2 separate regions of the Homo sapiens genome follow, and region 2 is linked to region 1. The links come from fine-mapping of genetic effects on gene expression. A gene starts in region 1. The other region holds a variant in brackets. All regions are shown on one strand. Distances are between the middles of the regions. Region 1 holds the start of IL11RA (interleukin 11 receptor subunit alpha). Region 2 holds the start of ARID3C (AT-rich interaction domain 3C).

What was found. PIP is the estimated chance that this variant, and not a neighbour inherited with it, causes the effect. A credible set is the group of variants that fine-mapping cannot tell apart.
Region 2: its variant is the best candidate, but not a certain one, in a credible set for the expression of IL11RA in whole blood (TOPMed, PIP 0.77).

The regions. Positions count from the first base shown.
Region 1 is chr9:34,649,769-34,655,087 of GRCh38, forward strand. IL11RA (interleukin 11 receptor subunit alpha) reads left to right here and starts at 2,417. Exons shown (of 13, transcript NM_001142784.3): 1 at 2,417-2,465. It overlaps GALT (galactose-1-phosphate uridylyltransferase), which reads left to right. Exons shown (of 11, transcript NM_000155.4): 11 at 601-1,267. The coding sequence ends at 681. RefSeq lists a silencer at 2,373-2,472 and an enhancer at 5,054-5,319.
Region 2 is chr9:34,628,232-34,633,650 of GRCh38, forward strand. It overlaps ARID3C (AT-rich interaction domain 3C), which reads right to left and starts at 835. Exons shown (of 8, transcript NM_001017363.4): 1 at 686-835. RefSeq lists silencers at 644-743, 794-953. The variant C/T (reference allele first, on the strand shown) is at 2,664.

The DNA.
Region 1 (5,319 bases):
AACCCAACAGTCATGACCCTGATAGTTTCCCATAACAACCTGGGCATTCCTTGGGACTCAGGAGCTGCTAAACTCTTTCATCCCCTGGTGGCTTCAGCAGTCCTTATCACCAGCCTCACAATCCCACAGGCCCACCCCCAGTGGGCCTGTGGCATTCATATTTCATATTCATATTTCAAACCACAATATCCAGCAAAATGTCTCCTGAGCACCCAGAACTCCATACCATCGGCCGGGTGTGGTGGCTCATGCCTTAATCCCAGCACTTTGGGAGGTCAAGATGGGAGGATTGCTTGAGCCCAGAAGTTCGAGACTAGCCTGGGAAACATAGGAAGCCCTCGTCTCTACAAAAAAAATTTAAAAAGTTAGCCAGGTATGGTGGCATATACTTGTGGTCCCAGATACTTGGGAGGCTGAGATAGGATCACTTGGGCCCAGGAGTTTGAGGCTGCAGTGAGCCATCATCATGGCATCATTGCATTCCAGCCTGGGCAACAGAGCAAGACCTCGTCTCAAAAAAAAAAAAAAAATGAAGTCCATGCCACCATTCTTGGCAGCCCAGCCCTTATCCTCCTTAATTGCTCCCTGTCCCTTTTCCAGGCTGCAGAGAGACTAAGGGCACTTCCTGAGGTTCATTACCACCTGGGGCAGAAGGACAGGGAGACAGCAACCATCGCCTGACCACGCCGACCACAGGGCCTTGAATCCTTTTTTGTTTTCAACAGTCTTGCTGAATTAAGCAGAAAGGGCCTTGAATCCTGGCCTGGAATTTGGGCAGATATAGCATTAATAAAACTGTGCATCTCAAACTTTTATCACATACTCTAATATCAGAGGAGTGTGAACCTTCAGAGATCTAGGGTTAAAAGCTAAAGGCATAGCTCCAGCTACAACTTTTCTTTGTCTACAGATGTGTAAAATCTTGATGCAAAAATCTACCCCAAATTTCTGAACAAAATTAATATTCAGTATTATATCTAGCCTATAGATTCTCTTACTCTTGGTGTAATGACAGCATTCCCAGTTTAGGAAACTGTTTTAAAATCTTGTGTCTTGGTTGTGGCTGAGGCTTTGGGAAGGCCAGAGCCCCCTTTGCCACCACCCCTAGGGTGTCAGCTCCAAGCCTGGGCCTGAGGGTTTGATGGGGAGCGGGTGAGCTGGATCCTGATCCCAGTGGTCAGTGGCCAGATCCTGGGCTGCTGGCCAGAACCCTGGCTTTGTGAGTGGCTGCAGCTTGGCTCTGCTCCAGCCCACAGGGGCTAAAGGGGCGGGTAGGGAGTGTGTAGGGAGCGTGTACGTGGCTTTGTGTCCTTGGCTCCTCCAGACTCTCACATGTGCGGGCACCATATACTTCTGCTGCCCTTGTGCCCCAATCATTGCACAAACAGAAACAGCTCTGACAGAGAAGGGACTGCTAGAGTTAGGAACCCTAGGGCCTGGAAGGAAGGTATGGCTCTCAGAGTGACCTGGGGTCTATTCAGTCCCCTCTGGACCTGTTTCCCTGGCAACGCTGTGGGAACAACAGTCTATGCAACACAGGAGACCTGATGCCACTGGTGTCCTCCAAATTTTAAGGCGAAGGCAGGCATTGTGAATGATGCAGGGATGGCCAGAATGGTTTTTGCCTTCGTTCTTTCCCCAGGGGAACCAAGCCTGTGGGTGGGGAAATCACACTAAGGCTGGACAGTGACTGAATCTGGCCCAGGAGAAACTTGGCTGCCTGCCTTCCAGACCAGGGTTTTTCTTCCCTGAGATCCTGGAGGGGAAGTACCTGGAACTTGGGAGTGTTGCCCTGGTCTGGAAGATCTGATAGACATAGTATGCACACATTTCCCTCGAGCTTCCCATGACTGGGGAGTAGATGAGAACCCTGAGTGGGTGGCTGGTTTCTTGAGGCATACATATACCCGACACACCTTACACCTCTGATTTGGCTGCATTTTGGAATCATCTGGGAAGTTTTAAACAATACTGGTGCCTAGGTCCAACCTCCAGAGACTCTGATTTAATTGGTATGGGGTGGGGTTTTGCAGTTTTCAAACCACAATATCCAGCAAAGTTTGAGAACCACTGCCCTACACAGCCCTCCTTCTTCTTTATCTTATCTGGAGTCAGGGGCACCTTCAGCTTCTCCAATCACCTGGCCAGTGGCTCTTGTTTCCAGTCCTGCTGTTCCAGGGTGGATAGGCCTTCAGGCGGAGACCCAGGAATCCAGCTCCAGACTCTGTCCCAAGCAGCCTCTTCAGTCCGGGACGGGACAGGAAGTGTCCGGCGGAGGTGGGGGTGGAGGTGATTGGCAGTTGGAGTCTCCAATGGGCCAGGAGCCCCCCTATTTCACTCCTCTCCTTCCATTGGCGCCTGGGCGGAGCCACCCCCGCTGCGGGGGCCCAGGGCGGGAGGGAGTAGAGGCCGGGGCAGAGGGCGAGGGCGAGGGCAGAGGGCGCTGGCGGCAGCGGCCGCGGAAGGTGAGGCCTGGTGTAGACGCCAAAGTCTTGTCAGGAGTGGGCGGGGCAGGGTGATGTATGATCTGAAAGGCCGGGAGTGACTAACGACTGTCAGTGTGTATGTGCCTGTGAGGCTGTGTCTGTGTGACAGTATCATTGTGTGCGATTCTGAGTGTCACTTGGTGCAGCTGTCAGCTAATGTGACTGCGTGTGTCAGTGTGCATGGAGCTGGAGGTGCATGTGGCTGTGCAAGTGTGGGATTATGTGTGTATCTGTCAATGCACATTTTTGGTGGGACTGGGTTGTGTGTTTGTGTGAGAGGGACTGTGACCACATGAGGGAATGTGTTTTGGGAAGGTCTCTGTGGGGTTTGAGACCATGTCTGCCAGCGTGAGAGTGGGTGGCTGGCTTTGTGTGTGCCAATGTGTGACTTCAGCAGTAGCAGAGCAAAAGTGAGGTTTGTGACTATGTGTGTGTCCTGGGTCCTAACTTAAACCGTGTGGGAGTACAGCTGTATTCATGTATTGGGGGACCTACCTCAAGAGCCCATGGGACTGACCTTTCTCTTAAGTGTCCAGCATTGACAGACACACCCACAACACACGTGGCTTCCCCTCCTTCCTCTGCTCAAGAATCCCCAGCATCAGGTCTACTGCTCCTTATTTTCTGTTTCCCTGCTTGGCTCAGTTTCCCTTACGTGCCGTTTTCTGTCCCTATTGCTGTCTTACTAGAGATACCTCTGTGTGTTTCTTCACAGCTTTGTTCCCCTGGTCTCTCTGTGTGGGTGCATTTCCAGTTTTGCCTTTCCTTTCTCTCTGTCTCTCTCTGTGCCCCTATGCCTGCCTTCCCTGCTGATCTTGATCTCTGGCTAGTTGGGGGCCTGTAACAGTGATGAGATGCGGGTCTGCCCCGGCTAAGAGCTCCCTGAGAGAGGGGGCTTAGACCATGATGAAGAGTTGCTTTTAGGCGGTGCTGTGAGCCCTGGTAGGGGCTGTGTGCGTGTGTGACTGCGTGAGTGTATGAATATGTGTAAGTGTGTCTGAGTCTGAGGCGGTGTGGCTGTGCCCGTGTGACTGTGAGTGACCGCATGTGAGAGTGTATGAGTCTGAGGGTAACTGTGGGTCTTGTGTATCTGGCACCAAGGGACCAAAGGCATTTCCTGGTGCTGGGGCCCAAAGAATGGAGGGGGAGGTGAGAAATGGCTGGAACTTCCAGGGGAGGGGGAACTGGACTCTTTGGCCTCTCCTTATATCCCCCAACCTGGGGCCTCCCTTCCCCTGGAAGCACAGCCAGCTGTACCCTAAGGAAACATTTGGTGAGGAGTGAAAAGAGGGGGAGTTTGTATCTGATTTTTCATTTGATTGTGTCCACGTGTGTTCAAAGGCATGCCCTTTTGTTAACTGTGCCTCTTGAGTCTGTGTGTGAATGTGACTGTGTCTGGCTGTGTGAAAACACAGGGCATCTCTCACTGACAGGGACATAAGTATTAGCCACCCTCCTTTCCCTCTTGCTGGCCTTGGCTGTGTCTGTGGCTTCCTTTCCAGACTTGGGGGAGGCCTCTTCCCTTCCCAGGGCCTTGGGTGGGAGGGAAGGAGGGAGGAGGCAGGAGCAGGGAGGGGGCCTGGCTAGGGGCGGCAGAGCTCCAGGGCTTAGAGGGGGCGGGGCAGGGAAGGGGAAGGAGGGGATGGCTCTGGGGTCCCAGAACTGAGTGGAGTAGGAGACGGGGGCTGTAGCTGGTGAGAGGAAGTCCTAGAGGCTATGGACACTCTGCTGCTGGGATCACCGAGGTAGGGTGGGGCTAAGCAGGGTAAGTGTGGCTGGGTGGCCAGGGGTGAGCCAACTGGACACACTCAGACAGACACACAGACAGGTGGAGGCCCTGCTCTGCTCTACTCCTACTCCTGAAGGGTCCGTGCTCTTCCTCTTCTGGTCTTGTTCCCAGAGCCCTTTCCCCGCCTGCCCCTTCGTTCTCCATCCACTTCACCACTGCCTTCCTCCTTCTGCTCCCCCTTGTCCAGAATCTCTCTCTCCTAGCATCCCCCACCTGCCATATAGACACACTGTTAGCTTTTTGAGTTTCCGCTGACCCCAATCCAGTCTTTCCAACACTTCCCACACTGCCCCATCACCTCCTAGTCCTGATCTCTGAGTATCTCTTGGTGCTGTGGCCCCCATGCCTGTCCCTGCAGGCTCCCAGTTCCTCTCAGCCTCTCATCCCCTTCCCTCCCCTCCCCTCCCCGCCACCCTGTCTCCATTTCCATCTGCTGGCTCCTCGCCCACCCCCAGCCTCTGGCAGCAGCCAGGGCATCTGGATCTGCTTAACTACACAGCCCCAGCCTGCACCCTAGCCCCATCCAGCTTCACAAACTGGAGACCAACGAAGTGTCAAGAGCCAGGCCCAGCTGAGTGGCCCAAGTAGCCAGACCAAGGAGCCAGGTTCAGGCGAGAAGCCTGGCAGCCAGGGCAGGGGTGGGCCTCAGGGTGGGAGTGCAGGATGGGCTCAGATCCATGATGACACCCTTCCCCCAGGGTGATAAGGTCTGCCTAGGTTAATCAGAGGCAGTGATAAGCCCTGGACCAGGTGGGGGTAAATACCAGAATTCCCAACAGCTGGACTGGAGGGGTTAATGGGAGTGGCTGAGCTGGTGCCAGTGCTTGGTGCCAGGGGTGGGCGCCAAGGGCAGTGGAGGGGGAGTTGCTGGCACAGTCTGTTGCCTCCGGCTTTTGTTCTGGGCCCTAAGCCCAGGACTGAGATGGAGGGTGTGAGGGGGTGTGTGTGTCCGTGTGTGTGTGTGTGTGTGTGTGCGCGCGCACGCACATGCAAAGCACTGGGTATACAGTGGGAAAGGGGACCTCAGGTCAGTTCCCGCAGTGA
Region 2 (5,419 bases), 21 kb before region 1:
GACCAGACCCGGGGAATCAAATGGCCATTGACTGAGGACTGGAAGAGTGAGCAGATCAGAGAGGGTGACGGGGACCAAGAGACATCGGGAAATGGTGAAGGAAGGGAGAGAGAAAGAAAAGGAGAAGGGGGATGTCCGACAGAGACAATGACAGGGAGATGTGAAAATAGAGATGGAACAGGGTGACAAGGAGAGACAGAAGTGGGGTGACACAGAGACTGAGAGGGACCAAGATGGAGAGAGGCAGAGGTATCAGGCAGAGACAGGGTAGACAGACAGAGATGGAGAGAGATAGAATATTGGGTAGAGAGACAGGGAGGGTAAGAGAGGTAGAGGAGCAACAGATAAAAGACCTAAGTGACAGGTAGCTCAGAGACGGACAGAGACGGAGAGACAGAGGCGGAGATAGACAAATAGACAGGGGTTGAGATATAGGGAAAGACCAAGACAGCAGGAAACGGACAGAAGAGAGAGATTAGAAAGAGACAGTTAAATAGAGAGGGACCGACAGAGACAGGGACGGGAAAAACAGCCGGAGAGAGGGGCAGAGGACAGGGACCAAGGAGTCGCGGGGATGGAGGGCGGTGGGGCAGAGCCTGGGACGGGCACGGGACCGGACGGGCAGGAGGCGGCAGAGTCGCGACGCCCGGCTCCCTCGCTCCGGGCGCCCCGCGGCCGCACTCACCTGCCTGGCGTGGCCCGCTGCCCCTGGCGTCTCCACGGCGCTGCCTTTGCTCCGCCCGCCTCCCAGGCGGCCCTGGCCTCGGCTGGGTCCCGGCGGTGCGCTCCCGCCGCCCTGTGCTCCTCTGGCGGCTGTGCGCTCACTCGCCGCGCTGCTTGCGGCGGCCGCGGGGGCGGGACCCGAGCGGGGCAGGGCGGGCGGGGCGCATGGGGAGAGGCCCCTGTGGGATCTGCCGCTCTCAGCTCCCCAACAGGTGTCTCCCACCTTCTTTCCAGCCAGCTTCGGGGGCAGGGGGCGCTGGAAAGCTGCGGGGGAATCGTGCGAAAATGAGGGCTCTACCGCCACCGGACTCCGGACCAGAGCCCCGCCCAGCCTCACAAGTCGTGCCCCCGACACCCACACTCGGCACTGGGCTTCCACATACAAATAGCCGCATCCACACACCAACACACCTTGTCACAAGTTCAGGCGCATAGCTTCCCAGTCTCACACGTTCCGTGACATGGTCACCACAGTGCCAATGGCCTGGGCACGCTGTGATCAAGAGGGGAATCCCTCTGCAAGATGCTGGGGTGTGCGTGGAGGGTCTGGTCAGAATAGAAGCTTCTCCCTTTGCCTTGAGCACCCCTGCCCTGCCTACGTGCTGTCCCCCACTGCGGGCATGCTGCGGTTTGCACACATGAGTGCACATGGTGGTGGACCCACACCTATGCACTCACACACTCTCAGAGGTCTTTAAGCTGACTGCACACTCACCGCATGCAGATACACAGCCACACACAGTTTTTGTCTCTTTTGACATTCTATTATGGAAATTTTCTTTTCTTTTCTTTTTCTTTCTTTTCTTTTTTTTCTTTTTTGGAGACAGAGTCTCTGTCACCCAGGCTGGAGTGCAGTGGCGCGATCTGGGCTCACTGCAGCCTCCGCCTCCCAGGTTCAAGTGATTCTACTGCCTCAGCCTCCCGAATAGCTGGAATTAGCTGGGATTACAGGCGTCCACCACCAGACCCGGCTAATTTTTGTCTTTTTAGTAGAGATGGGGTTTCACCATTTTGGCTAGGCTGGTCTCGAACTCCTGACCTCAAGTGATCCACCCACCCTGGCCACCCACAGTGCTGGGATTACAGGCATGAGCTACCGTACCCAGCCTGTATTATGAAAATTTTGAAACATAGACAAGTGAATAGTATAATGAACCTCTGGTACTCATCATAGGTTTGTTTCAACAGTGACCGGCACTTCGCCCATGTTCACACACATTCTCCACCTATGTGTGCCTGACTGCCACATCTGTATCTCCAGACCCCCTCAGCCCACTGCTTTGCGCCCTCCCCCTAACTATTCCCAAGACGCTGAAATGCTGTTCCTTATTTGGGGGTTCTGAGTGGCAGGCCTCTCAGAATTTCTGCTCTGAACAGCCTGGACCCCACTCCTCCCGGGAATCCTCATACTTCCTATTTCTTCCTGTGCCCAAGGGGACCACTTACCAAACAGAGGGACACTGTGAGGTGATGCCAAGTGTGTAAGTGAACAGCAGGTGTCTGTAGGGGTGACACTTGGCATAGGTATGAAACTGTGGCACCAGAGACTGTCTTCTGACCTCACACCCCCAGAAGGCAGGAATCCAAACACGACCTTTGTCTCCTCCCTCCTCCCTTGTCCTCTCCCAATCAGTCCACTCCTCTCAGCCTCAGCTTGCTCTGGCTCAAACCACCGGCTCTTCTGACCATGGTGGGTCTGACCATGGTGGGTGCCTCCTCCCTGCTCTCCCTGCCTCCAGCCGCCACCCTTCTCTGCACCCTTCTGTGCCCAGCTTCTACTGCAGCACTAAGTCCTGGTTCTCTATGGCCCATTCCTGGCCACGCTGAGGCTCACCCCATTCATTCCTTTGGCTGCCCCAGTGTCCTCCACCTCAGATTTCAGACCTCTGAGCCCATCAGAACCCCCCAGCCTCCAGAAGCTCCAGTGATCCAATCACTGT[C/T]GGTACTGATGCCTCCTCCCCCATGGCTTTGTTTGGTGTGAGTATCCTGGGGCAGAGCCAAGCCTCCTCCTCTGCCCAACCCTCCCTGATGCTGGGAGGGGAGAATCAGTGAATGTGCCAGGCAGACAGACATGCCCTGGAAGTCTACTGGAAGACTGGAGAGCAGAGGGTAGCAATCCACAGAACCCTTGTGCCCTGCTTGCTCCCTTTTCCCCACCACAGCTTCCCCTGGCTGCTCAGAGGAGGTCCATGGACAAAGGTAGGTGGCCAGAGTCTTCCTAGAAAGGTAGGAATTGGCTTGGGGAAATTCCAGTTCTGAGTGTTTGGAGATCGCTTTGTAGGGTTTGGGTTGAATGGTAAGGGGCTGGGCAGTCACTCCCCCAGCTCCCAAATCAATCAAGCAAAGTTAATCCACTTTTGGGGTCTGGGCCAGGAGGGCTACAACTGGGAAGGGCTGAGGGGAAGGAATATGCTTGACTGGGACTTGGTTTATCTCTCTTCATCTGTGAAAAGGAAAGGCTGCCTCTCATACCCGCAGTCTGGTCTTATACCTCACAGAGACGGAGACAGACCTAGACCTTCAGAGACCCATGCTTCATTCATCCAACACATATTTATTATCTATTTTTTTTGCCAGGCACTGTTGGACACAGGAGCAAATAAGACAAAGTCCTTATTATAATGGTACAATTCTAAGTGGGGGAAATATACAGTGTGTCAGATAGTGGTAAGTACCATGGAGAAAAATGTAGCTGGGTTGGGGGGAACATAAAAGGGGGCATTAGTTACCTATTGCTGTGTAACAAATCACCCCATAATTTAGCAGCTTAAAACAAAAACATTTATTTTCTCACAATTCTGTGGGTCTGGATGGTTCTGACTCATTGTCCTCTAAGGTGTTGTAGTAAAAAGGTTGGCCAGGGATGCAGTCATCTGAAGGCTTGACTGGAACTGGAGGATCTACTTCCAAAATGGCTCACTTGCATGGCCCTTGGCAGGGGGCCTGTTCCCCCCGCAATATGGGCCTCTCCATAGGATTGCTTGTATGTCCTCTCAACATGGCAGTTGGTTTCCCCCAGAATGATCCAAGAGAGACTCTTTAGACAGCAATGCTTTTTATGGCCTAGTCCTAGAAGTCACACACTGTTATTTATGCCACATTATTTGTGAAAGTACATAATTAAGTCTAGTCCACTCAAGGGGAAGGAATTTAGGCTTCACCTCTTGAAGGACAGAGCATCAAAAATTTTGTGAAGGTATTTCAAATCACCATGCAAGAGATACTATTATATAAGTGTTGAAGAACTCAGTGAGCAGGAATTGAAGGAGGGGAGGAAGAGAGCTATGACTACGTGGATACCTAGGGACGAGCACTACGGTCAGAATAGCAGGTACAAATATCCTGGGATAGAATTTTGCTTGATGTGTTGGAAGAAAAGCAAGGAGGCCACTGGGTTGGAATAGGGGGGCTGAAGGGGTGAGTGGTTGGAATGTCTGATCAGAGGAAACATGGGCCTTGGAGTAGGCCCTTGTAAGGAGTGAAAGGACAGAATGAGATGGAAAGCCACTGGTTAGGTCTCAGCAGAGAGTGAAAGTCTGACTGGCTGCTGCGTGGAGAACCCTCCACACAAGATGCATGCGTGAAGATCAGTTAGGGGGCCATTGCAATAGTCTATAGGCAAGAGATGATGGTGTCTTAGACCAGGGTGGGGGCAGTGGAGGTGAGAAGGCATGATTAGAGTCTGGATATATTCTGCAGATAAAAACAGTATTTGATGATGGATTGGATGTGGGACATGAGAGAAACAGATGTGTCCAAAATGACTCTGGGCAGCTGGGTAAATGGAGGTGCCCTTAATTCACAGTAAAGACTACAGGATGGTGGTGGTGTGGGGCTGGGAGAGAATTCGGTTTGCTTTGGATATCTCAAGTCTGAGATACCTATTAGACAGCCAAGTGGAGATGTTGAGTAGAGATGAAGGCAGTAAGATTTCCAACTCTGGTGCTCAGGGCAGAGATTTAGGCTGAGACAAAAATTTAGAAGTCAAGATATATAGATGGTAAAGTCACAGAATCACCTGGGAAGGGGTGTAAACAGAAGAGGTTTGAGGACTAAGCCCAAGAAAGTCAGAGAATGAGGAGATAGGAATCCAGTAGCTGGGTGCAGTGGCTCACACCTGTAATCCCAGCACTTTGTAAGGCCAACATGGGCGGATTACTTGAGGTCAGGAGTTTGAGGCCAGCCTGGCCAACGTGGTGAAACTCTTGTCTCTACTAAAAAAAAAAAAAAAAAAAATTCCAGTAAAGGAGGCAATTAAGGAGGAGTAGTGTCCCAGAAACTAAGAGTGCCTTCAGAGTGATTACCCTGTGTCAAATGAAAGCTAAGAACTATGAAACGACCAACGGATTTAGCAGCAGAGATTAGGAGGGGCCTGGGAGCCTAGTCCTTTGTGGACGTTTGGGAGGAATGACAGGGCAAGCTGGGTCATCCCTGACATGTGGGCTCTGAGCCTAGAGGCAGAGCTGGGTTACAGAGTAGGAATCCCCCAGGAGGCATGGATTTGCAACCTGGGGTGAGTGGAGAGGAGCCAGCCAGGGCCTACTATGCCTGACACGGTGGTATTGGGGGTGAAGAGTCGGTTTCAGGTTGGCCAACTTACCTGGACTCCACATTCAGTCACAAATTGACTTTTGATGTTGTTTCTAAATGCAGTTATACATATAGTCTTTCGGATTTGTGTTCTTTAGAATGTTAA